Homo sapiens: one gene and its partners. The protein of the gene in region 1 purifies or fractionates together with the protein of each later gene. This does not show direct contact. Each region holds a gene or a part of one and is shown in the gene's direction. Other genes may lie near its edges.

Region 1 (3,021 bases):
GGAAAAGATAAGAGTAACATGAAAGAAGAAAAGTAGAAAGGAGTTAATAAAGATAAAAGCACAAAATGCTGAAATAGTCTAAATAGTAGAACCCAAATTTAGGGCTGCAGGTATCCTGTCTCTGCAGGTGTTCTCTTCTTCACGCAAGTACTGTTCAATCCTGCAGAGTAAGGAGAGGATGGGAAAGTTTTTCACAGGCACCTCGGAGCCCTCCTAACTCTGTGACCCCACATAGGTAAAGTGTGGCCCAATAATAAGAGGGAGCCAGGCTTACCTGACTAGGGCAACTCACAGAGCTCATTGTCCCGAGAGAGAGACGTGGGCAAGAATACAGATGTCCCCACGACAGTTTTACTAGATTCATTCATGATACACAAACCAGATGAGCCATTGAGAGGAATTTGGAGGAGCCCTGTTGGGCCCCTCACCTCCAAAACTAATACTCAAGACTTACTCTGACCTGCTGTACTTTGGGTCTCCAGAGCCCAGAAGCAAGCAGTCCTCTGTGGCAGTCAGGCGTATTTGCAAAATAGAGTTGTAGGTCAGTTGATCGAAGCTGGGAATGCCGTTTCCCAAAAACAGTCAAGTTGGAAAAGACTGGAAGGATCATTTAGTGTAGTGCTGTACCCCTACCTCCAGTCTGGTGACTGTGCCCCTCTTCTCTAACAGTCTCAACAGATGATTCTCTAGCTCAGGGGTCAGCAAACTGCAGCCCGCGTGGGCCAGCAGGCCTGTTTCTATAAATTTTTATTGGAACACAGCCATGGTCATTCATTAACATATCTGTCCATGGCTGCTTTCACACTACAATGGCAGAGTTGAGTAGTTGCGACAGGGACCATATGGCCTGCAGAAACTAAAATATTTACAATCTGGCCCTCTAAGTAAAAGATTGCAGACCCCTGCTCTACTACATCCAGCAACAGAGAAGACACTCCCTCCTAACATTCCCATTCTTTCTGGACAGCTCCTGTCATTATCAAGGTCTTGATTCACACTGCAGTCTCCCTTGCTGTGACTTCCATCTTTAGACCTTAGTCTTAATTCTGGGATCATCTAGAACAAATCTAATCTCCCTCCTCTATAGCCCATATTAATCATAACTCTCATAAGTGGCAAGTGACTAAAACTCTATCAAAGTAGCTTAAGCAAAAAAAAAGGGAAAAAAAGTAGCTTAAGCAAAAAGAATGTATTTGCTTATATAACTGGAAAGACTAAGAAATTGGAGTTCTAGCCTCAACCATGCTTAGATCCAGAGTCTCAAAAATATCAGGGCTCAATCCCAGCACTTCGGGAGGCCGAGGAGGGTGGATCACAGGGTCAAGAGATCGAGTCCATCCTGGCCAACATGGTGAAACCCTGTCTCTACTGAGATACAAAAAATTAGCCGGGCGTGGTGGTGCACGTCTGTAGTCCCAGCTACTCAGGAGGCTGAGGCAAGGGAATCGCTTGAACCCTGGAGGCAGAGGTTGCAGTGAGCCAAGATCGTGCCACTGCACTCTAGCCTGGGTGACAGAGCAAGACTCCATCTCAAAAAAAAAAAAAAAAAAAAAAAATATATATATATATATATATATATATATGTATGTATGTATGTATGTACACATACATACCAGGGCTCTGTGCCCACGCCTTAGCCCTGTGTATCTTTTTTTGGCCTCAGTCTGCAGGCAAGATCTTTTCACAAAGTAGAAAGATGGCCAGTGGCAGCCCTAGAGTCTACTCTTTCCAGCTTTGCAGCCCTAGAGCTAAAAGACTGTCTTTCGTCTACCATGATACGTCAGCCAGTGAAGACACGCTGCTCTGCTCGGGTGACATGCCCAGTGCTCACTGTTTTCCAGGTCCAATAGCATCACATATTCAGACAGACTGGCTTAGGTCTTGTGCTAGGAATTTTTTTTTTTTTTTTTTTTTTTGAGATGGAGACTCGCTCTGTTGCCCAGGCTGGAGTGCAGTGGTGCGATCTTGGCTCGCTGCAGCCTCTGCCTCCCGGGTTCCAGCGATTCTCCTGCCTCTGCCTCCTGAGTAGCTGGGGTTACAGGTGCACACCACCACGCCCGGCTAATTTTGTGTTTTTAGCAGAGACAGGGTTTCTCCATGTTGGCCAGGCTGGTCTTGAACTCCTGACCTCATGTGATCCGTCTGCCTCAGCCTCCCAAAGTGCTGGGATTACAGGCGTGAGCCACCGCACCTGGCCTATTTTGTGCTAGGATTGATGGCCCCAACAGGACCAGGTGTTTTGAGTGTTCCTCAAAACATCTGGAATATGGAAGACAAGGAACACGGTTAAACAAAACTAGAGATCACATCACAGCCTCTTGTCCTTCCTCCCTTCTGCTCCAGTCTTCTTGCTCTGCTCAAAAAATCTCTTCCTCCAGCCCCAATGCCTTATGTATAAAATGAGGAACTTTCTGGCTCTGCCTCTTTGCCTCGTCCCTTGCCTCCTTTTACCACGGTTCTGCTCCTTGTCCCTCCCCCACCCCTCCCCCGACCACCAGCCACAAGAATGCATATAACAAGAGATGGAGGCTGGGTGCATATGGTTCACACCTATAATCCTAGCGTTTTCAGAGGTGGGAGGATAACTTAAGTCCAAGTGTCTGAGACCAGCCTGGGCAATAGAGCAAGACACCATTGCTAGAAAAAATATTAGCTGGGTGTGGTGGCACACACCTATAGTCTGAGCTACTTGGGAGGCTGAGGCAGGAGGATCCCTTGAGCCCAGGAGGGTGAGGCTGTAGTGAGCTGTGATCATGCCACTGTGCTCTAGTCTGGGTAATAGAGGGAGACCCTGTCCCTTTAAAGAAAAGGGGTTAGGGGAGAGATGCGGGGCTGAGCCTGAAAACATGGCCTTCACCCCTTAGGCTTAGGAGAGGGCTTCAAATGGTGACCTATTTTGTTTTCTTTGTTTCTTTACTGTTTTCTTCTGGGCTACTGGCATTCTGTGACCATGTGTCTGCCTGTGAGTCCTGGGACAGGCCCTACTCAGGCCCTGGGCATATCTTGATACCAAGGTTCCAC
Region 2 (3,500 bases), on another chromosome or scaffold:
AACGAAGCCACTGTATGCCATTATGTAGGTAGCAAAATCTGGGTATGCTTAACAGCATGCTTTTCAGAGCTTTTCCAAGTGTACAGTATCTGTGTATGTTTATATGTTGTTGGTTGTAATAAGGGAGGGAATTTGGTTACATTGTTATTGGCAGTGTTCCCAGAATAGAGAAGACGCATGGCTCCGTTTCTTCTTCATGGACTTTTTGGGAAGTGTTGGATAACTAGGCTTTAAAGTAAGCATGCTTAAGAAGAGGATTTATAGCCTCAAGAAAACGTGACATTATACTGCATTTGTAAATAATTATTACATATGTATACAGAGTTTTAAGGATAATCTTTTTCCCATTTTAATGAAAACTCTGCAATGTTTGATGGGTAAATAATATGGGGGAAACTCTTTGTTGCTGGGCTTGTGTATTCATGTCTGGTACAGCTATATTGCTGATGATTCTGTCCCTTTACCTAGGTCTGATACCACAACTTATAGGGGTTGCTCCAGAAAAGGCCATTAAACTGACTGTAAGTTTATCTCTAACTGAATTTATGTCATTTGTTTAGATTACCATTAAGCCAAAAAGCTAAAATCAAGGCTAGGCGTGGTAGCTCATGCCTATAATCTCAGCATTTTGGGTGGTGGGAGGATCACTTGAGACCAGTTCTAAACCAGCATAAGCATAGTAAGAACTCAGCTCTACCAAAACAACAACAACAACAACAAAATTAAAAATTAGCCAAGTGTGGTGATTTATGCCAGGAGGCTGATGTGGGAGGATTGCTTGAGTCCAGGAATTTGAGGCTGTAGTGAGCTATGATCATGCCACTGCACTCCAGCCTGAGCAACAGAGTGAGACCCTGTCTCAAAAACAAAACTAAAATTGATGCTGCTGACACTGGCACACTGTCGCAGAATTTGTACAACTTTAATTTTACATGTAAGCATTTGATAATTTTAAATTTTATCATAAGACAAATATTTTGCTGACTTGGAAAAGCAACAGTATGCCAGAAGAGAAATGGTTGGGAATTTTGGTTAACTGATGTTGTCTTTCTAATTAGGTTAATGATTTTGTTCGGGACAAATTTACCAGAAGAGATGGCTCTGTTCCACTTCCAGCAGAAGTTCTTGCTGGAGGCTGTGTAAGTATTACTGTTAGGCGCTTCTTGTGACAAATACATTCCGTTGACCTTTTTGCACAGATATAATAGATATCTTAGTGGCATTTCTCTTGAACTCAAGGGATTCTAAGCAGGTTTTCTCAATAATCATATGGAATAAGTTTTAAATTTTATTGTAAAAGCTAACGGGTTTTGAGTGTAGAAAAGAGGTAGCATTTTCCGCCAGTTAGAATGGTGATCATTAAAAAGTCAGGAAACAACAGATGCTGGAGAGGATGTGGAGAAATAGGAACCATTTTACACTGTTGGTGGGAGTGTGAATTAGTTCAACCATTGTGGAAGACAGTGTGGCAATTCCTCAAGGATCTAGAACTAGAAATACCATTTGACCCAGCAATCCCATTACTGAGTATATACCCAAAGGATTATAAATCATTCTACTATAAAGACACATGCACACATATGTTTATTGTGGCACTATTCACAATAGCAAAGACTTGGAACCAACCCAAATGCCCATCAGTGACAGACTGGATTAAGAAAATTTGGCACATATACACCATGGAATAATATGCAGCCATAAAAAAGGATGAGTTCCTGTCCTTTGCAGGGACATGGATGAAGCTGCAAACCATCATTCTCAGCAAACTGTCACAAGGACAGAAAACCAAACACCACATGTTCTCACTCATAGGTGGGAATTGAACAATGAGAACACCTGGACACAGGGCAGGGAGCATCACACACTGGGGCCTGTCATGGGGTTGGGGGTTGGGGGTTGGGGGAGAGATAGCAGTAGGAGAAATACCTAATGTAAATGATGAGTTGATGGGTGCAGCAAACCAACATGGCACATGTATACCTATGTATCAAACCTGCACATTGTGCACATGTACCCTAAAACTTAAAGTATAATAACAAAAAAAGAGGTGGCATTTTCATCAGCTCTATCTCTTTGATGCTCCTAAAGCATTACCTTCCAGACTTTTTTAAAAGTTCTAATTCCTATGCCTTTTAAGAAATAGAGTACAGAAAATATAGTAGTGGATAGAGTTACCATTCATATATGTTAACTGGAACTTTAAAACAAGTGTGAGATGGCTGATTAATTGGGCCCTTATATCTTAGGTATAGGACTGAGTAAGCCATTGTTTAATAATAATTTTTCTTCTTTAGAGGCCAGAGGGTATGGCAAACAATAATAACGGTAACTACATTTCAGCTATTGACAGAAATTCTGAACCAAGAGACTCAGATATTTACTTAGCGCACAAAGGTTTCTGTCTTTAAAGTGTAAGCATGACATGATTATTGGCAAACAATAATAACGGTAACTACATTTCAGCTATTGACAGAAATTCTGAACCAAGAGACTCAGATATTTACTTAGCGCACAAAGGTTTCTGTCTTTAAAGTGTAAGCATGACCAATTCTTAAATCTATTTGCAGCTCAACTAATTTCATTTGTGGTATTTGTTTCATATTTGATAACACATGGTTCGTTTCAGACTTGTTTAGTCCATTTTGTTCTTGGAAACATTAATAACTTCCAGTTGAATTGGCTGACAGTCTTGGCTAAAACTTCCTCAGTTGCTTGTGAAACCTGAAGTGATGAGGTCAGTGACCTTGGCAACATTTAATTCAGAGACACTGCCTCGGGGGTCAGAGAGAGAGAGAGGTTGCTCCAGATTCTCTTTGATATGTGTCAGTGTGGCACATACCTGAGTCCTCTGCAGAGTTGCTTTGGAAGAGGTGGACTGCTGTGTGGGTGTGTGTGTGCCTGTATGCATGCCCCAGCACATTCTCAGGAAGGAAATCTCTTTGGCTACATTTCTTTTTTAATGAAGAGTTAACAGTGGACATAGAATAAAACTTTTGCTTAGGTGGATCACCAAAAATGAAGTTTCTCTTCTTCCTTTATTCCAATTAGATTCTGTAATTGGTTCTTATCTAGAGAGCGAACCTTTGCCAATCATAAATATTCTTTTTCTTGGTCATTTTAAGTTTCTGTTTGGTTAAGAAGCTTTCTAACTCATTTTTATCACAGCACATGCATACCTTTGCCAGAAATATAAGTCATGCTCTTTCTGTTCCATGTAGCTAATTATTTGTTTCCGTTTGCAATATCCAGGTTTTTGGTCATGAAGCTGACCTGTTTCCATGTCTGACATGTGACCTAAGTGGTTAAACCAAAATAAGATGTTTAGTTCCTTTGTTCTTCCTAGCTACCGACCCTGTTTATAGGTTTGAACTTTAGGAATTTCTATTGAAGTCTGGGTTGCCTTGAGGGTTGTGCTGACACTCTAAATCTCTTCCTTAATCATGACTCATTTCTGGAGGCTTTGATGGATTGTCTAGTGGGAAATTGACAGCATGAAAAAT
Region 3 (3,500 bases), on another chromosome or scaffold:
AGGAGGAAACGACAAAGAGGAAGAGAGGCAGCAAGGCACAGGGAAATGAATGTGGAGTTTTGTGTTTTAATTAACTTCAAGAACACTGGATTGGGAATACTCATAATAATTTATTAATATCCATCATTTGGAAACTAGAAAGGAAGTTTTATGTTAATAAAATTGATAATGATATCTTTTATTTATGTTCCCTCCAGTCCATTGTCTCATTTAATCTTCATCATGCCAATGAGGATTCTGTTTCAACCTGGAAGAGCGATTAGAAACAATTTCTTTTAGCATTGTCCTCCCACTCTCCACCCCCTCACAGCTTGAAGACCCATGCAATTTGCTTTTATGTGCCTTAGACATCTGCCTACATGCTCCTGCACTTGGTGGCTTTTGGATGATACCTCATTTAAGGAAAACTGTCATTGGAGGCAGAAAAGCAATGTAAGAGTCCTATCACACAAGAGAAAATACTAGAGGCCTTTTTGACAATTTTCCACCCAAATAAAAGTTCAACCCCTCAACTTTCCAAACAGGGCCATTGTAAGAGTACCAAACTCTGCTTAAATATTCTACTCTATTTTTCCCATTTGTTAAATTCAATAAATTATTAAATCATCACAGAATTCTTCCTTTTCTTGAAATGAAATTTGCCTCTTTGGTTTTGGACTATTCCTACTTGTCTCAGGCCTCTTCCACGTAGCAGGCTTTCCAGTAAGTATAAGGATAAGGTATTAAGCTTCTATTTATCTTGAAGCATCCCCAGCTCTGGTTAACTGTCCCTGGTTCCTCCAACTTTACATCATCATCATTAGTCTCTACTGGTTATTTCCATTTGTTAATGGCCCTCTTAAAAGGAGATGACCAGAACAGAGTTACCTTACTACCATCACTCTGTCTAGCATCACCTAGACACCTAGGACTGGCATCCTCCCTAGTGACCTTGCTGTCCTCTTTGACTTAGCTCAGTGCTTATACTAAGATGCTGTCCTAGACCTGCAAGTCTAGCTGAGGGGTCCTTATATTTCCACAGCATTTATCCCGTGGTGTTGCAACTGTCTGTACCTTGTCTATCTCTCCCACACCTCCCTGCTTACTAGATTGCAAGCTCCATGAAAACAGGGATCCCTTATTTTGTTTCCTGTTCCCAGAACCTATCCAAGTGCCTGGCACAGAGTAGGTACTCATTAAAATGTGTGCGTCATGAGCAAACTGACCATGCTTCTCTTCTGCACACATCAGCCAAAATCTAAAAACCAGACCCGATGCCTCAAGCAGACCGTATAGCACACTTACGATGCTGTGCCTTGATGCAAAAGAAAAACTGGGCCAAATTTCTCCCTACCATAAAGGTTTGTTACAAAATAGAATGCTTTTGATTCAGAACCCCCGTTCTAGAATAACCATGGTTTCTAACTCACACTTACTTCTTCCACACTCCAGTTGACTGAGCCCCACAGGATACCTGACCCACACCTTGCCACCCTCAACAGGTATTGTGCCCCAGGAAAAGACTTCCGATTGGAGGAGGTGCTTATCATTACCATCTTACCTCCCGTCTACCCAAGCATACCAGAAACTCAGAGAGATGAAAATGATAAGCACCTCCTCCATCTTATGGACCCTTCTCTGGCCTAACTGCTGTCAACCCCCTGGATTTTTCTCTAACACCCCCCACTAGCAGCAGGTGCACTCTCTCCTTTACTTGTCCTTGCTGAGGTGAAACCAGGAGAAACCTACTCTCCACCCAGCCCTCCAACTCCTGCATTGTTCACACCATATAAAAATACGATAGACACAGGAAAATTCCAGCATGAAGTGGTGCATGTGAAGTCCCACGTATGTGAGACTGACTGGGGAACTGGCTTACATTGCACCAAACTTCTCTCTTGCCACCTTGAGAGACTTCAATTCCACCTCAGTGGAAGGGGAAATATGAAGCTCTCTGGATGAGGAGCACCAAAGATGAAGAGGTGCTTTATGATGACCTGGAGACATACGAATCAGCATGAGTTTTAATGCTACATATGAACTGCTCAAGGAAATTAATTTGTCTAAGCAGCCCTGGGCCTAATCCCCTGCCCTTCTCTTGTATAGTTCTTAATCTACTTTCCAATTCAGCTTTATCACTATGTTTAATATTTGGGATTCCCTGTTGAGTGCCTTTCATGTCTTTTGTATGAGCGCACCCTTTAATAAACTTACTCCTAGCCTTTGGCAGTAGAATGGTTAGGAAAGAGCCCAGGCGATGGGTTCCAGTGCTGGTTCTACCACTTAGTAGCTATGTGTACATATGCAAGGTATTTAACCTATCTGGGCCCCCAGTTTCCTCAACTGATAAAATGGTTATAATGAAACTTACCTTGTAGAAGGTAAGAAGAGAGGGAAAGATTTGAAAAGTCTGACATCCACTAAATACCACTAAAATACCAATTAATAGTAATTAATATTATGCCCTCTAGTAAACTCTGACACACAATCATATCCATTATACGTGTCCATTCTTGTCTCAGCCTCCTCCTGGATTCCTTCTACATCAAGTACAATAGCTACAGGGTAAAACATTTATGTTCTTCCCCCTAAAGATGGTAGTTTAAAACTGTCCTGACTGGGTCAGCAAATCTCTTGCTAAATGCTTTTCAACATTCTTTCCATCTTTGGAAATGTACACACAGTCTACCAGTAGTCCATCATTTGGATATTGTATATCATGGTCCAGAAAACCCAAATGTTTTCTTTTACACCATCCCCTAAGCATTCATTTCCAATCCTTTATGTCACAAAGTCACCACCCTTATATGGAGTGAGCATCATTGTTTAATATCTGAATGAGAATGTGTTCATTGCAAAAAGCTCTTATAGCTGCGTGAGTTTTAATTGATATTCAATTTGTTGAAGTTACAGTGTTTTTTAGCCTTTGAACATATTTTATAAATCATGGAAGTTTTCTTATATATCTAGTTTGTGTGCATTAAAGTATGAAACATTCATTTGCCTTTGTTCTTTGACTAAAGCTCAATAAATCTTTAAACATGAGATAGAATACTTCCAACTAAGTATTTGAATACCATTTTCAAACTTAATCAAATCAATCTTACATATTTTTATTAGTCACAATTTTTATAAGCTTAACAAATCAAATAATCTTTCAAAATGTAAACAGTATTTATAAACTTGATTAATTAAATTCCTCTAAGCATTTCAAACTATACTCACAAATTTGATACATCTGGCTTTGTTAAAATCTTCAAATCCCTAACAGGAAGACTTACAAATAGAAGAAACAAAATCTTTCTCAGGACTTACTTAGTTCTTGTAAGACTAATAAATCAAAACTTCTAAATTTAGCACACAAATTCTCTTAAAGCATTTCAACCTGCTGAGAATTAAACTGATAAATTCAGGTTCTCCTGAGCATCCAAACATTGACTACAAAATTAATTCATTAAATCCTCCTAGGTGTTACACTTAAAATTGCAAATCTTGTAAGTCAAATTCTCTAATATATCAGA
Region 4 (4,287 bases), on another chromosome or scaffold:
TGCAACCTCGGCCTCCCGAGGTCAAGTGATTCTCCTGCCTCAGCCTCCTGAGTAGCTGGGATTACAAGTGCGTGTCACCACACCCGGCTGCTTTTTGTATTTTTAGTAGAGATGGGGTTTCACCGTGTTGGCCAGGCTGGTCTCAAACTCCTGACCTCAGGTGATCCACCCACCTTGGCCTCCCAAAGTGCTGGGATTACAGGCATGACCCACCACGCCCAGCCCTCTCCTATTTTTTCCTAGCCAGAATTGAGAAGTCCATTTCTATTAATAGTTACACCCATTTTTCTTAAACTATTTATCGTCCAATTATAATCCTTTGAACACTAGGAAGGAACACAATTTCCACACACATTCACATATATAGGCAACATTTGCCAAGCACACATCTGCACCCTATCATATGGCTATAGTTTGCCTTATTGCAGTAGGGGTATTTGGAGGATTCAGAACATGTTTTCACCTGGAATGGAAAGGAGGCAAAGATTGTGTGCTAATGGAAATCATTAAGATCAGTAACCCAGGGCTCTCAAGTATGGACAGTTAGAGATACTGACTCGGAACTGAGATTTAGGGAAAACAGTTATTCAGTACCTATTTCTAGAATGTTTGAATATACAACATATAGACAGTGTATAGTTTATAGTCAAAATATAATGTACAGCCAGTCCAGTTCCCAAACCGATTGTCTGGGTTCACCCCTTATTAGCTTTGCCACTTGTTATCTGTGTGACCTCAACTAAATTACTTTACCTCTCTGTGCCTCAGTTTCAATATCAGTAAAATAGAGATAATGACAGAATTTAGCTCTCACGGTAATTTTGAGGACTAAAAAGTTAATGAAAGATTTGAACAGTGCATTGATATACTAAGTGAAATGCAATGTTTAGTTATCTTTTATCTGGTCATTTTATTAGAATCTCTACAAAATACAGAAACAAAAGTTTTATTATGCAGTCTTATTTTTGTTCACTGTTACGTAACACATTTTACACATTTTCCGCATTCCACGCCCCGCCCTTCAACAACAACCACCACAAACTCCGACCGTCCTTTCCAGGCCCTTTCCCTCTATAAACCTGCCGTTTTCTGTCTCCCAAGTCATCCCAGTTTAGAACTGCTCCAGGAAATAATGAATGAACAGAGAGAGCCTAGTTTGTTTATTTATTTACAATCCACTAGTCTAATCTAGTTTAGATCCAGCGGCAATTTTTGGGGTGCCAAGGAGGAAAGAAGGAGATGGCAGTGCGGGGACAGGGCAGAGCCTGGGCCAAAGGAAGCCACACCCAGTTCTTGCCCTGCCCTGCCCGACACAGGCAACGTGACCCCAAGCGACAGCCAGCTGATGCTTGCTTCTCCGAGCCCGGCGGTCAGCAGCCGGAAGTAGCCCGCCCGGGGGCGGGGAAAGGTGCCTTAAGGAGGAGCTAGGGGCGTGCGGCCAATTGCAAGCGACTGTCCTAGCGAAGAGGGCGGAAGAGGAGAGATCCAGTTCCGGACGCGGCCGCCGCCGTCGCCGCCATCTGTCACCTCCACTCCGGCATCAGCAGCCAGTCGCCCGTGTCCCGCCTGTCTCCTCGGCGGAGCCTGCTGCCCGTCCTGCCACCTCTCTGCTCTGTTCTTGTCTCTGCCTTCATTCCCGAATGGATCTGGTAGGAGTGGCATCGCCTGAGCCCGGGACGGCAGCGGCCTGGGGACCCAGCAAGGTAAGTGGCAGACGAGACTGGAGTACTAGCCTTGGTCACACGGGCTGGATCTCTCGGAAAGCTCGGAGAGGGCGGCTTCGTGGGCGATTCGGGAAGTTCTGGGGCGGGACCCCGCGGACCTCGGCAAGGGGGCACTGGCCGCGGGGGTGCCGGGATGGGGATGGAGGGAGCGGAAAGAGGGGCGGAGGGCGGCTGGATCTCCCAAAGGCCACCTTGAGTGGTTAGGGCTCTCTATTTCTTCAGCGTACTTTCTGTATCACCGTAGCATGTATTTGAGCAGGACTGGCTTACACACCCTGATGATACTGGAGGGGAAACAAGCACGATCTTGTTTTTCACTGGCCAAGTGAGTCAGCCGAATACACAGCTAGCCAGACAGAAAGTTGGTTTAGGAAGCTGTTTACTTAATTTGATAAGTGTGGTTATCCCAGTTTGGAAATGTCTTGTTTTTGAAGCAGTAAAAGATAAAACCCAGGCGCACCCTCCTCCCTCGACGCTGAAATTCAAGTGCGCACCACGGACTGTAAAGTGCTTATGAATTTCATTATCTGCCTAAGCTTTGACGTTTAAACTTTTTCATAGAGTGGCAAACTAAAGACCTTTATTTCACATTTGCTTTCTGGTTTCCAGGCAGGTCCTTTTCATGATACTTTGATTATATGGATGAAAACACTTTTCTGCCACTTTATGGAGGGTCTGCTTGAGAGCAGAGTGCTTCCATTGGGATTTTTTGTTCCACAAATTAAGGTCGTAAAGGAGTCTAGCTTTTTTAGCTTCATAGTTGTTCTTTACATGCTAACACAGAATATTTGTTCCCATTTAAAAGGTCTTATTAGATCTTCAGGCTAGGCCTTAACAGGAAAAGGGGTCAATAATTAGCTATTAAGTAACCAAAAGTTAATTTTGTAAAAGTTCTCGTACAGCTGTTGGAAGAATCTGAGATACTGCGTTGGCAAATGTGGTTAAGTCTGCATGTTATTTTGTGTATTTTTCCTTGAGACCTTGTTTACAAGGTCAAGATTAGCAGACATAAAAGGATGAAATCAGTAGACAGACTAGTATTATGAATATATACCCTGTATGTTAAAGTCCTTCAGTTAAGCATTGGCAGAGGCTGGTAAAAATGTCAAATGAGACAGACTCTATTCAGAATACATCCTAATCTCAGAACAAATTTCACTTACAAACTAATTCAGTAATAAACTATTTAACAGTCATATTTTTATTTAAGTGTACATCATCAGAACTATAAAATTCCATTTTCATTGTGCAACAAAAATGCTTCTGGGATTTATAGACGCTCTATTGGGAGGACAGTGTTTTGAAAGGCAAAACAATTAGAAACAGGCTGAAAGTACTATCATTAATCCTTTTTTTCTCTAACCTTTTGGAAAACCAAAGTGATTACAGAAGCCTACATGGAGGAGGTGAAGATTTGAGGAGGGTTTTGAAAAATGGAAGGATTCTCAAAACTTTTTAGTCAGGACTTCTTTCCTTCCTTCCTTCCTTCCTTTCCTTCCTTTCCTTTCCTTTCTTTCCTTCCTTTCTTTTCTTTCCTTTCTTTCCTTTTCATTTATTTATTTATTTGAGACGGAGTCTCGCCCTATCGCCCAGGCTGGAGTACAGTGGTTTGCTCCCAGCTCACTGCGACCTCTGCCTTCCGGGTTCAGGCAATTCTTGTGACTCAGCCTCCTGAGTAGCTGGGATTACAGGCGCCTGCCACCACGCCCAGCTGATTTTCGTATTTTTTTTTGTAGAGATGGGATTTCACCGTATTGGCCAGGCTGGTCTCAAACTCCGACCTCAAGTGTCCACCCGCCTCGGCCTCCCACACTGCTGGGATTACAGGCGTGAGCCACCATGCCCAACGTCTTTCTTTTTTTTTTTTTCTTTTTCTTTTTTTTTTTTGAGACGGAGTCTCGCTTTGTTGCCCAGGCTGTAGTGCAGTGGCGCGATCTCGGCTCACTGCAAGCTCCGCCTCCTGGGTTCAAGCGATTCTCCTGCCTCAGCCTCCCGAGTAGTGGGACCACAGGTGCCCACCACCACACCCGGCTAATTTTTTGTATTTTTAGTAGAGGCGGGGTTTCACCGTGTTAGCCAAGATGGTCTCGATCTCCTGACCTCGTGATCCGCCCACCTTGGCCTCTTTCTTTTTTAATTGAGACAGGGTCTCACTCTGTCACCCAGGCTGGAGTGCAGTGGCATGATCACATCTCACACTGTGCCTTGACCTTGCAGGCTCCCACCTCGGCCTCCTGATTAGCTGGACTACAGGCCAGTGCCACCACACCTAGCTAATTTTTGGGTTTTTTTTGAGACGGAGCCTCGCTCTGTCACCAGGCTGGAGAGCAGTGGCATGATCTCAGCTCACTGCAACCTCCGCCTCCTGGGTTCAAGCAATTCTTCTTCCTCAGCCTCCCAAGTAGCTGGGACTACAGGTGCATGCCACCATGCCCAGCTAATTTTTATATTTTTAGTAGAGATGGGGTTTCACCATGTTGGCCAGGATGGTCTCGATCTCTTGACATTGTGATCCTCCCACCTTGGCCTCCCAAAGTGCTGGGATTACAGGTGTGAGCCACCG
Region 5 (3,500 bases), on another chromosome or scaffold:
GTTTCATTTTATTATCTTTTAAAATTTGAATACATTTCTTTTATAGGCAAGGATCAATGCCCGGCTTCAGCAGTATCGTGCCAAAGCAGAACTAGCTCGATCTACCAGACCCCAGGCCTGGGTTCCAAGGGAAAAATTGCCCAGACCACTCACCAGCAGTGCTTCAGCTATTCGTAAACTTATGCGGAAAGCAGAACTCATGGGGATCAGTACAGATATCTTTCCAGTGGACAATTCAGATACTAGTTCTAGTGTGGATGGAAGGAGAAAACATAAGCAACCAGCTCTCACTGCAGATTTTGTGAATTATTATTTTGGTCAGTATAGACACTGGTACATGCACATTTTCACTGAGAACAATTTGTTAATGAAAATGTTTGATATACTGTTAATTTTTAGAAATTTATTAGCCATGCTGCATATATCATAGAGGGATGTTTATTTTCCTAATATGTTGTGGGTTTTTACAAAATGCTAGGTTCATTTATTTGTAAATATACTTAAAAGTTTTAAACTATGTAGGTTTATCAATGTGATCATCTTTATAGCTAGTTTCTTCCTATGTCAGTTTTTACTTCCTACTAAAGTAAAATTCGATATTTCATTTAAATAGAGAGAAATATGCGCATGATTCAAATTCAGGAAAATATGGCTGAACAAAAGAATATAAAAGATAAATTAGAGAATGAACAAGAAAAGCTTCATGTAGAATATAATAAGGTAAGTTAGCTACAAAATATGCAACATAATGTGATAGATCTTACTGATGATTTCTTTTGTGAATGTATGGCATTTCTTTTATGTTTTGTTTTTAATTTCTTCTGGAGCTCTTTGGCTCTTCCCTATAACTCCTACTCCTCATTAGCTTCATTATCATCACTGTCTCTTACTGAGCACTTTGTGTGCCAGGCATAATTTTGATCTCTTTACATGTATTATTTAATTCCCAGCTTAACTTTATAGTGTAGGTTATAATCATTGCTTCCATTTTCAGGGAGAAAACTGAATCCTGAAGAAGTTAAATAATTTGCCCAGGTTCACACAAGTAGTCAAGTCACAGACTTGACAAATGAAGTCAGTTGGTGTGAGGCCAACTCATGTGACTCTGTTCTCTATTTCTAATCAATAAACATTGCTATAGAGCTTCACTTTCTAAGTTTGTAGAAAATTTAGAAACTTTTCTTTAAATTATTATTTATCTTGAATTATATTATAATGTTTGGAATAAAAATTTCCAAATTTGAATTTTCATGTACCTCTTCATCGTAATGAGAAAAGATTCAAAAAGAAGTATCTTATAAAAGCAAAATGTGGTTAAAATGTTATACCAAGTATAACTTGACATATAAAACGGGTATTGACTTATTGTTAGAAAACATTTTAAGTCATAAAAAAATAGTAGGAAGTACGTTTCCAATAATCAGCTACACTGTGTAGTAAAAAGAGTACTTGGAATTAGATTCAGAGGACCTGGGGATTCTTGCTAGTTCTGTGATCTTGGCCAACTCACAAAAACTCTATGATCCTTAGTTTTTTTCATTGGGAAAATAGTGGAAATACATCTTGAGAGAGTCACAAGGATTAGTTAGCAGAACATGATGTTATATAACAAACTGTAAAAGAAGGTATAAACGTAGTTACCATTATTAGTAAAAATGCCAGCAGAAAACAAAATGCTTACAGCAACAAATACTGCTGAATAATTGGATAGCCTTGTCTCTCAGTGGTATTGTGGCTTGAATATATTAAAAATATATGGAGGCCGAGCGCAGTGGCTCATGCCTGTAATCCCAGCACTTTGGGAGGCCAAGGCAGGTGGATCACGAGGTCAAGAGATCGAGACCATCCTAGGAGTTTGAGACCAGCCTGGCCAACATGGCAAAACCCCGTCTCTACTAAAAATACAAAAGTTAGCTGGGCGTGGTGGAGGGTGCCTGTAATCCCAGCTACTCGAGAGGCTGAGGCAGGAGAATTGCTTGAACCCAGGAGGTGGTGGTTGCAGTGACACAAGATCGTGCTACTGCACTCTAGCCTGGGCGACAGAGTGAGACTCCATCTCAAAAAAAAAAAAAAAAAAATAGATCGAGACCATCCTGGCCAACATGGTGAAACCCTGTCTCTACTAAAAATACAAAAATTAGCTGGATGTGGTGGTGCACACCTGTAGTCCCACCTACTCGGGAAACTGCAGCAGGAGAATCGCTTGAACCCCAGAGGCGGAGGTTGTAGTGAGCCGAAATCGTGTCACCGCACTCCAGCCTGGTGACAGAGTGAGACTCTGTCTCAAAAAAAAAAAAAATTATATATATATATGTGGAATAGAAATGTAGATATTTCTTAAATTGTCAGATATTTTAATGAAGTTTACTAATTTGGCTTACTTTGTAGCTATGTGAATCTTTAGAAGAACTACAAAACCTGAATGGAAAACTTCGAAGTGAAGGACAAGGAATATGGGCTTTACTAGGCAGAATCACAGGGCAGGTTAGTTTCTTTCCAATTGCTGTCTCCTTCAGTTCTTGCTCCCTATATGATTTTCAAAGAACAGATTTTTGATACAACTGTCATTTGACTAACCGAAGAATTCTGTTTGATCAGGGCCTAATCCTTTGGGATAATGATTTCTGCTTGAAATACACCTAGAGCATTGGAAGCTGCCTACTGAGAACCTCTAGTTTAATTTGGTTGTTTCAACAGCTATCTTGTGTGCAAAATTTTTTCATTTGCTCTAACTGATTGACCTGTCATTTGTGATGAAGCTTAAGACTTGAAGCATGAGTTTTTCCTACTACATTCTTCTTTCCTTTAATTTAGCAGTTTTAGATTCCCTGCCACATTTTTTTCTTTCCTGTCCTTATGCTGTATTTTTTTTTCTATTCTTTGGATGTATAATTTAAAATTAAAAAAGGCAAACTAGAGATATTCATTTTTATGTTAATTTGGTTTTCAGCTGTATAAGAGATGGTTTTTTAAACTTTAATGTTAAAATGTATTTTTCCCCTTTAACAGTAGCTGTGATCGTAGTTATTAAAAAAAACTTTATTCATGAACACCTTTAGTCTGTTAAAGTTTTTGGTGTTGAATAATTATTGTTAGATGGATTTCTTTGAATGCCTTTTTTAGTACTGTGTATATAATTGATAAATTACAGTTTTCGCAAATATTTTTTATTTTTTAAGGATGATGGAGACCCACTGTTTGTGGTCCTTTCACTAAAAAGTAGTTTTATTTGTGAAGGAGCTTTTCGAACAGATATTTTTCATTATACTTGTTTTAGAGGTTTATGGAGAGTCAAATTCATCACACAGCTTATTTAAATATTTTAAGAAGTGATACATACTGATTTGTACTGTGCTATACCAGCTTTGAAGATGCTTTATGTGAAAAGAATGTGTGTGGCTTGTATCCTAAAGAATGTTTTAAAAGGTGAGAATTAGTAGTCGCCTCTGGGAGGATCAGCCTTTGTTCCTGTTAATAGGTTGGTTGATGGATTTTTGGAA
Region 6 (3,500 bases), on another chromosome or scaffold:
CAGTGAGCCAAGATGGCGCCACTGCACTCCAGCCTGGGTGACAGAGTGAGACTCTGTCTCAATAAAAAAAATAATAAAGGGCACAGACAAGTGGGATCAGGATACTTTGAAATGAGAAAAATACCCTCTTTTTCAGAAAGTAGAAAGAACCACAATGAGATAATAGTATTGATTTTTCTTAACTATCAGATCACCTCTTGAAACTGAAGAAAGAACATTTAAGATCTGAGGAAGGTATTGGAGGTTCAAAGTTGCATGTGGCTATTATGTGAAGAAATTAACTAGATAGGAATTTGATCCATGGGTCATGTTGAACGTACAGTTGATGACAGCCCAGCGTGGTATTTCTTCATTTTAGAGTGATATTTCCCATATTATGCAGAGGTTAAAGATTTTGGACAGATTACCAGAACAGAGACACAGGCCCTGGGAACTATTGATGCGTAATAGGTTTGGCTTCTGATATGTGTGATCAAGTTTTTTATTATTTCATGCTTACATTGTTCAGCCTTTGATTACAGTCAGTGCAATGTTAAGACTCTGCAGTGCTTCCCACTAAGACATCTCTCTTTTAGTTTCCTGTGGGCCGCATCCACAGACACTTGAAGACTCGCACCACAAGCCATGGAAGGGTGGGTGCCACTGCTGCCGTGTACAGTGCTGCGATTCTGGAGTACCTCACTGCAGAGGTTTGTACAGGAATGTCTGTTGTATATGGCCATCCAGAAGGTGCACTAGTCTCAGTGACAGAAACCCATGGAATATATTTGAAAAAAGACATATTATGCTCACTGGGGCTTTTTTGTTTGTTTGTTTGGAGACAGAGTTTCACTCTTGTTTCCCAGGCTGGAGTGCAATGGCCAGTCTCGGCTCACTGCAACCTCTGCCTCCCGGATTCAAGCGATTCTCCCACCTCAGCCTCCCAAGTAGCTGGGACTACAGGTGTGCACCACTGTGCCCAGCTAATTTTTGTATTTTTAGTAGAGACAGAGTTTCACCATGTTGGCCACACTGGTCTCAAACTCCTGACCTCAGGTGATCTACCTGCCTCAGCCTCCCAAAGTGCTGAGATTACAGGCTTGAGCCACCACGTCCGGCCTCATTGGTTTCTTTAATAGCAGTTTGAGATGCATCTTGTCAGCTATTACCCAATGCCAATGTAAAAGAACCTTGGTGTACTTGTTTTTAAAGCTAAGCAAGGGGCTGGGCACAGTGATTCACGCCTGTAATGCCAACACTTTGGGCGGCTGAGGTGGGTAGATTGTACACTTGAGTCCTGGAGTTCCAGACTAGGCTGGGTGACAGAGCAAGACCCTATCTCAAAGTAAAAAAATTTTTAAAAGTTAAGCAAGGGCCAGCAATCTCTTATCTTTTATTTTTATTTTTTTATTTTGAGACTGGGTCTCACTCTGTCACCTAGGCTGGAGTATAGTGGCATGATCATAGCTCACTCCAACCTCAAACCTCCTGGGTTCAAAGGATCCTCCTGCCTCAGCCTCCCTAGTAGCTGTGACTTCAGGTGTGTGCCACCACACCTGGCTAATTATTTATTTATTTATTTATTTATTTATTTATTTATTTATTTTGAGACAGGGTCTTGCTCTGTATCCCAGGTGGAGTGCAATGGCACAATCTTGGCTCACTGCAACCTCCACTTCTTGGGTTCAAGCAATTCTCCTGCCTCAGCCTCCCCAGTAACTGGGATTACAGGCACCCGCCACTACACCCGGCTAATTTTTGTATTTTTAGAGGAGACTGGGTTTCACCATGTTGGCCAGGTCAGTCTCAAATTCCTGACCTCAGGTGATCCACTTGCCTCAGCCTCCCAAAGTGCTGGGACTACAGGTGTGAGCCACTGCGCTGGGTGCTAATTTTTTATTTTTATTTTATTTATTTATTTTTTTTTGAGACAGAGGCTCGCTCTGTCACCCAGGCTGGAGTGCAGTGGTGCAGTCTCGGCTCACTGCAACCTCCGCCTCCCGGATTCACGCCATTCTCCCACCTCAGCCTCCCGAGTAGCTGGGACTACAGGCACCCGCCACCACGCCCGGCTAATTTTTTTTTTTTGTATTTTTAGTAGAGACGGGGTTTCACCGTGGTAGCCAGGATGGTCTCGATCTCCTGACCTCGTGAGCCACCCACCTCCACCTCCCAAAGTGCTGGGATTACAGGCGTGAGCCACCGCGCCCAGCCTATTTTTTATTTTTTTGTGGAGACAGGGCTCCCTATGTTACCCAGGCTGGTTTCTAACTCCTAGCCTCAAGTGGTCCTCCCAAGTTGCTGGGATTACAGACATAAACCACCATACCCCAGTGAACTTTGAAGTATGTATGTAATCAGTAGACAGTATTTGTGAAGTTAGAGCATAATGTTGTAGTTTATGAAGATTTGGGATGATGTAAAGTTTGGCCAGTGTGATGATATATAAAAATCACAAATATGATAATAGAAGTAAAAGACTCAGTCTGTCCTGGTTCTCTGCAGGGTTATACATACAAAATTGCTGTATATTACTCAGTTTGAAATTTCAGGAAGACAAGTTAATTGGGCAAGAGTTCTTGGGTCACAGACCACCACTTTCCCCATCCCTATTCCTCCTTTAAAAAAATCCGTTGGGAAGTCATAAAACTTCAGCTACATTCCAGATTGGGGAAGTAATTTGAGTAACAAGTAGGTCAAGTGTAGACGCATTCATTCTGGTGGAAACAGAAGGGTCTTACTTGGGGAGATGTGATTGGGAGCTAGGCTGAGGAATTTAGCTTTTAATCTGTATGTCAGTTATCATTGCTGTCATTTATTTCATTAGTCTCACCAAGTCATCTGTGTCCCACTGGGGATTTAACATCGAATTATGGATGTTATGGATAGTTTCAGCTTCTCTGTGTCATGATCAAGGGGTGTTTTGTTTTTGGGGTTTTTCTTGTGTGTTTGTTTTGAGACAGGATCTCTCTCTGTCTCCCAGGCTGGAAGGCAGGGACATGATCTCTGCTCATTGCAACCTCTGCCTTCTGGGTTCCAGTAATTCTCCCACCTCAGCCTCCGGAGTAGCTGGGGCTACCGGTGTGCATCACCACACCTGGCTAATTTTTGTTATTTTCTTGTAGAGACAAGGTTTTGCCATGTTGGCCAGGCTGATCTCGAACTCCTGACCTCAAATGATCTGTCCGCCCCAGCCTCCCAAAGTGCTGGGATTACAGACATGAGCCACCTTTTATTAAAAGAGGCCACCTGGCCTCTTTTATTTTTAAAAATTTTTAAATTTTAATTAAAATACATTTTAAAACTTTTCTATAAGCATTAAGAAATAAATTTCACGGCTGGGCACGGTGGCTTACGCCTGTAATCCCAGCACTTTGGGAGGCTGAGGTGGGCAGATCACGAGGTCAAGAGATCGAGACCATTCTGGCCAACATAGTGAAACCCTATCTCTACTAAAGATACAAAAATTAGCTGGGCATGGTGGCGTGTGTCTGTGTATAGTCCCAGCTACTCAGGAGGCT
Region 7 (3,500 bases), on another chromosome or scaffold:
AATTTTAAAAAATATATACTCCAGGCATGGTGGCTCATGCTTGTAATCCCAGCACTTTGGGAAGCTGAGGCAGGCGGATCACCTGAGGTCTGGAGTTCAAGACCAGCCTGGCCAACATGGTGAAACCCCGTCTCTACTAAAAATACAAAAATTAGCCAGGCGCGGTGGCTCATGCCTGTAATCCCAGCACTTTGGGAGGCCGAGGCAGGTGGATCATCTGAGGTCAGGAGTTCAAGACCAGCCTGACCAACATTGAGAAACCCCTTCTCTACTAAAAGTACAAAAATTAGCCGGGGGTGGTGGTGCATACCTGTAATCCCAGCTACTCAGGAGCCTGAGGCAGGAGAATTGCTTGAACCCGGGAGGTGGAGGTTGCAGTGAGCCAAGATCATGCTATTGCACTCCAGCCTGGGTGACAAGAGCGAAACTACATCCCCCCAAAAAATTGTGTGTGTGTGTGTGTGTGTGTGTATATATATATATATGTGTGTGTGTGTATGTATGTACATGTATATATATTTGTTGTTGTTGTTGAGACAGGATCTTGCTTTGTTGCCTAGGCTGGTCCTGATTGGCTTCAAGTGATTCTCCTGCCTTGGCCTCCCAAAGAGAGCAAATACATGACTTTGGGGACCCAAGTCTGAGGAAGCACAGAAAGAATGCTACTCCTGTGACTTTTGGAGTGGGAAACCTGTCTTAAAATCCACTGGTTCCCCAGATTCCCATGCTTTTTTGTTTTTTGTTTTGTTTTGTTTTTTGAGATGGAGTTTTACTCTTGTTGCCCAGGCTGGAGTGCAGTGGCATGATTTAGGCTCACTACAACCTCTGTCTCCCGGGTTCAAGTGATTCTCCTGCCTCAGCCTCCCAAGTAGCTGGGATTACAGGCATGCGCCACCATGCCTGACTAATTTTTGTATTTTTAGTAGAGACTGGGTTTCACCATGTTGGTCAGGGCTGGTCTCAAACTCCTGACCTCAGGTGATCTACCTGTCTCAGCCTCCCAAAGTGCTGGGATTACAGGCATGAGCCACTGCGCCTGGCCTGTTGTTGTTGTTTGAGACAAGATATCCCTCTGTCGTGCAGGCTGGAGTGCAGTGGTGCAATCAGGGCTCACTGCAGCTTCAAACTCCTGGGCTCAAGCGATCCTCCCACCTCAGGCTCCCCAGTAGCTGGGACCACAGGGGCTACCACAAAATTATTTTTTGTAGAGATGGGGGTCTCACTATGTTACCCAGGCTGCTCTTGAACTCCTGGGCTCAAGTGATCCTCCTGCCTTGGCCTCCCAAAGTGCTGGGATTACAGGCATGAGCCACTGTGTCTGGCCCCCATGCTGCATTTTGACAGCAGATTGGAGATGAAGCCCTTCTATATCTGATTGCTTTTCCAAGGGATGTGAAGTAGGTGAGGTGGGTGAAAGAGGCAGGGTCACCCAGGGCGGGAGGCTGTACAGACACGGTGGCCTGATGAGGCCATCTCCCACTCAACGGGAACCCCCAGCCCACATCCTGATCTGAGATCCAGCACCCCAAAACCGAACTCCTCTAGGTCATCCCCAAGGCCTATTTGTGCAGCAGTGCTTGTTCCCTGGAGTTCTGGGGTCCCAGACGGAGTGTGGTGAAATGGGCAGAGTGGGGCAGTGGCACCTGAGGCCTCCTTAGCTCCAGCCTCCAGCAAGATGTTCCTGACAGTGACACGGCTGTACTTCAGCGCCGAGGAGGGGGGTGAGCGCTCTGTCTGCCTCACCTTTGCCTTCCTCTTCCTGCTGCTGGCCATGCTGGTGCAAGTGGTGCGGGAGGAGACCCTCGAGCTGGGCCTGGAGCCTGGTAAGTGCAGCCCCCAACGTGGGGCCACCGCAGCTGTCACTCCCTCATGTAATCTGACCAAGATGGTTTAACTGGCTCCGTGTCCAGCACGAGTAGGCAAAGGAGTGGGCTCCTGGGGTGAAGGCAGTCCCCATTAGTGACCATCTCAGCTCCTGAACCTTGTTGGGCTTTGGGGAAGACAGGACATTGCCTCTCTCACTGTCTCTGATGGACACTCATGGCTATAGCTCTTTTTTTTTCTTTTTTTTTTGAGATGGAGTTTCACTTTTGTCACCCAGGCAGGAGTTCAGTGGCATGATCTTGGCTCACTGCAACCTCTGCCTCCTGCATTCAAGTGATTCTCCTGCCTCAGCCTCCCAAGCTGGGATTATGGGTGTGCACCACCACGCCTGGCTAATTTTTGTATTTTTAGTAAAGATGGGGTTTCACCATGTTGGCCAGGCTGGTCTCAAACTCCTGACCTCAGGTGATCCACCCACCTCAGCCTCCCCAAGTGCTGGGATTACAGGTATGAGCCACTGTGTGTGGCCTCTTTTTTCATTTTTTTAAAAAATTATTTATTTATTTATTTTTATTGAAACAGGGTCTCACTATGTTGCCCAGGCTGGTCTCACACTCCTGAGCTCAAGCAGTCTGCCCGCCTCAGCCTCCCAAATTGTTGTTATTACAGGTGTGAGCCACCGTGCCTGGCCTCTTAAATGATCCTTTTAACATATAATTTGGACCTCATCACTTCTCTGCCCGGCACCACACTCCCCCGGTCTTAGGAGAAAGACCATAGCCCTCACCATGGCCCACATGACCCTGCTGACTGCTTGAGTTTTACCTTCTCCAATTCTCCCTGCCTTTCAGTTTTTAAAATTATATATGTTTGATATATACAAAGAAGATGTGTATGTCAATTATAAAGCAAAATAATCATATGAGTACCTGCAAACCTACCCCTCAAATAATAAGTAGGTGGGGTAGTGACTGCACCAATCTCCCAAGGGGGCGGCAGTAAGGTTTAAATGAATCAAGATCCATGGATAGGGCTTGATTTTTGCCAACCTAGCCCTCGTCACATGGAATGATGCCCTCTGTGGCCTTAACATGCATGTCTCTGATTACCAGGGAAGTTGAGCACCTTTTCCTGTTTATTCATGATTCATGTCTCTTCTGTGAAATTTTTGTGAAATACCTGTTCACATTGTTGCCCATCTTTGAATCTTTTTTCTCTTTGAATTTTTTTTCATTGTGGTAAAATAGACAAAACATAAAATTCACCATCTTAACCATTTTTAAATGTGCAGCTCAGTGGCATTAAGTATATTTAGATGGCCGAGCATGGTGGCTCATGCCTGTAATCCCAGCACTTTGGGAGGCTCAGGCAAGCAGATCACCTGAGGTCGGGAGTTCAAGACCAGCCTGATCAACATGGAGAAACCCTGTCTCTACTAAAAATACAAAATTAGTCGGGCGTGGTGACACATGCCTGTAATCCCAGCTACTTGGATGGCTGAGGCAGGAGAATTGCTTGAACCCAGGAAGCGGAGGTTGTGGTGAGCCAAGATCGAGCCATTGTGCTCCAGCCTGAGCAACAAGAGTGAAACTCCGTCTCAAAAAAAAAAAAAAAAAAAAAATGTAGGCCAGGTGTGGTGGCTCACATGTGTAATCCCAGCACTTTGGGAGGCCAAG

What was found.
Region 2: the proteins of TM9SF4 (region 1) and SLC25A12 purify together in Homo sapiens (affinity purification with mass spectrometry; one large-scale study listed by BioGRID and IntAct). This does not show direct contact.
Region 3: the proteins of TM9SF4 (region 1) and TACR1 purify together in Homo sapiens (co-immunoprecipitation; one large-scale study listed by IntAct). This does not show direct contact.
Region 4: the proteins of TM9SF4 (region 1) and RIOK3 purify together in Homo sapiens (affinity purification with mass spectrometry, with the first as the bait; one large-scale study listed by BioGRID). This does not show direct contact.
Region 5: the proteins of TM9SF4 (region 1) and PHF14 purify together in Homo sapiens (affinity purification with mass spectrometry; one large-scale study listed by BioGRID and IntAct). This does not show direct contact.
Region 6: the proteins of TM9SF4 (region 1) and H2AZ2 purify together in Homo sapiens (affinity purification with mass spectrometry; one large-scale study listed by BioGRID and IntAct). This does not show direct contact.
Region 7: the proteins of TM9SF4 (region 1) and TMEM161A purify together in Homo sapiens (affinity purification with mass spectrometry; one large-scale study listed by BioGRID and IntAct). This does not show direct contact.

What each region holds. Positions count from the first base shown.
Region 1 is NC_000020.11:32,161,714-32,164,734, forward strand, and holds part of TM9SF4 (transmembrane 9 superfamily member 4 isoform 1 precursor), read left to right. Parts: intron 1-3,021. UniProt on the Homo sapiens protein: Associates with proteins harboring glycine-rich transmembrane domains and ensures their efficient localization to the cell surface.
Region 2 is NC_000002.12:171,807,245-171,810,744, reverse strand, and holds part of SLC25A12 (electrogenic aspartate/glutamate antiporter SLC25A12, mitochondrial), read left to right. Parts: intron 1-468; coding exon 469-521; intron 522-1,058; coding exon 1,059-1,139; intron 1,140-3,500. UniProt on the Homo sapiens protein: Mitochondrial electrogenic aspartate/glutamate antiporter that favors efflux of aspartate and entry of glutamate and proton within the mitochondria as part of the malate-aspartate shuttle.
Region 3 is NC_000002.12:75,189,521-75,193,020, reverse strand, and holds part of TACR1 (substance-P receptor), read left to right. Parts: intron 1-3,076; exon of another isoform or gene 3,077-3,500. UniProt on the Homo sapiens protein: This is a receptor for the tachykinin neuropeptide substance P. It is probably associated with G proteins that activate a phosphatidylinositol-calcium second messenger system.
Region 4 is NC_000018.10:23,451,800-23,456,086, forward strand, and holds the start of RIOK3 (serine/threonine-protein kinase RIO3), read left to right. Parts: upstream 1-1,487; 5' UTR 1,488-1,640; coding exon 1,641-1,703; intron 1,704-4,287.
Region 5 is NC_000007.14:11,036,372-11,039,871, forward strand, and holds part of PHF14 (PHD finger protein 14), read left to right. Parts: intron 1-46; coding exon 47-317; intron 318-613; coding exon 614-720; intron 721-2,388; coding exon 2,389-2,484; intron 2,485-3,500. UniProt on the Homo sapiens protein: Histone-binding protein. Binds preferentially to unmodified histone H3 but can also bind to a lesser extent to histone H3 trimethylated at 'Lys-9' (H3K9me3) as well as to histone H3 monomethylated at 'Lys-27' (H3K27ac) and trimethylated at 'Lys-27' (H3K27me3).
Region 6 is NC_000007.14:44,838,088-44,841,587, reverse strand, and holds part of H2AZ2 (histone H2A.V), read left to right. Parts: intron 1-575; coding exon 576-689; intron 690-3,500. UniProt on the Homo sapiens protein: Variant histone H2A which replaces conventional H2A in a subset of nucleosomes. Nucleosomes wrap and compact DNA into chromatin, limiting DNA accessibility to the cellular machineries which require DNA as a template.
Region 7 is NC_000019.10:19,128,479-19,131,978, reverse strand, and holds part of TMEM161A (transmembrane protein 161A isoform 1 precursor), read left to right. Parts: intron 1-1,671; coding exon 1,672-1,823; intron 1,824-3,500. UniProt on the Homo sapiens protein: May play a role in protection against oxidative stress. Overexpression leads to reduced levels of oxidant-induced DNA damage and apoptosis.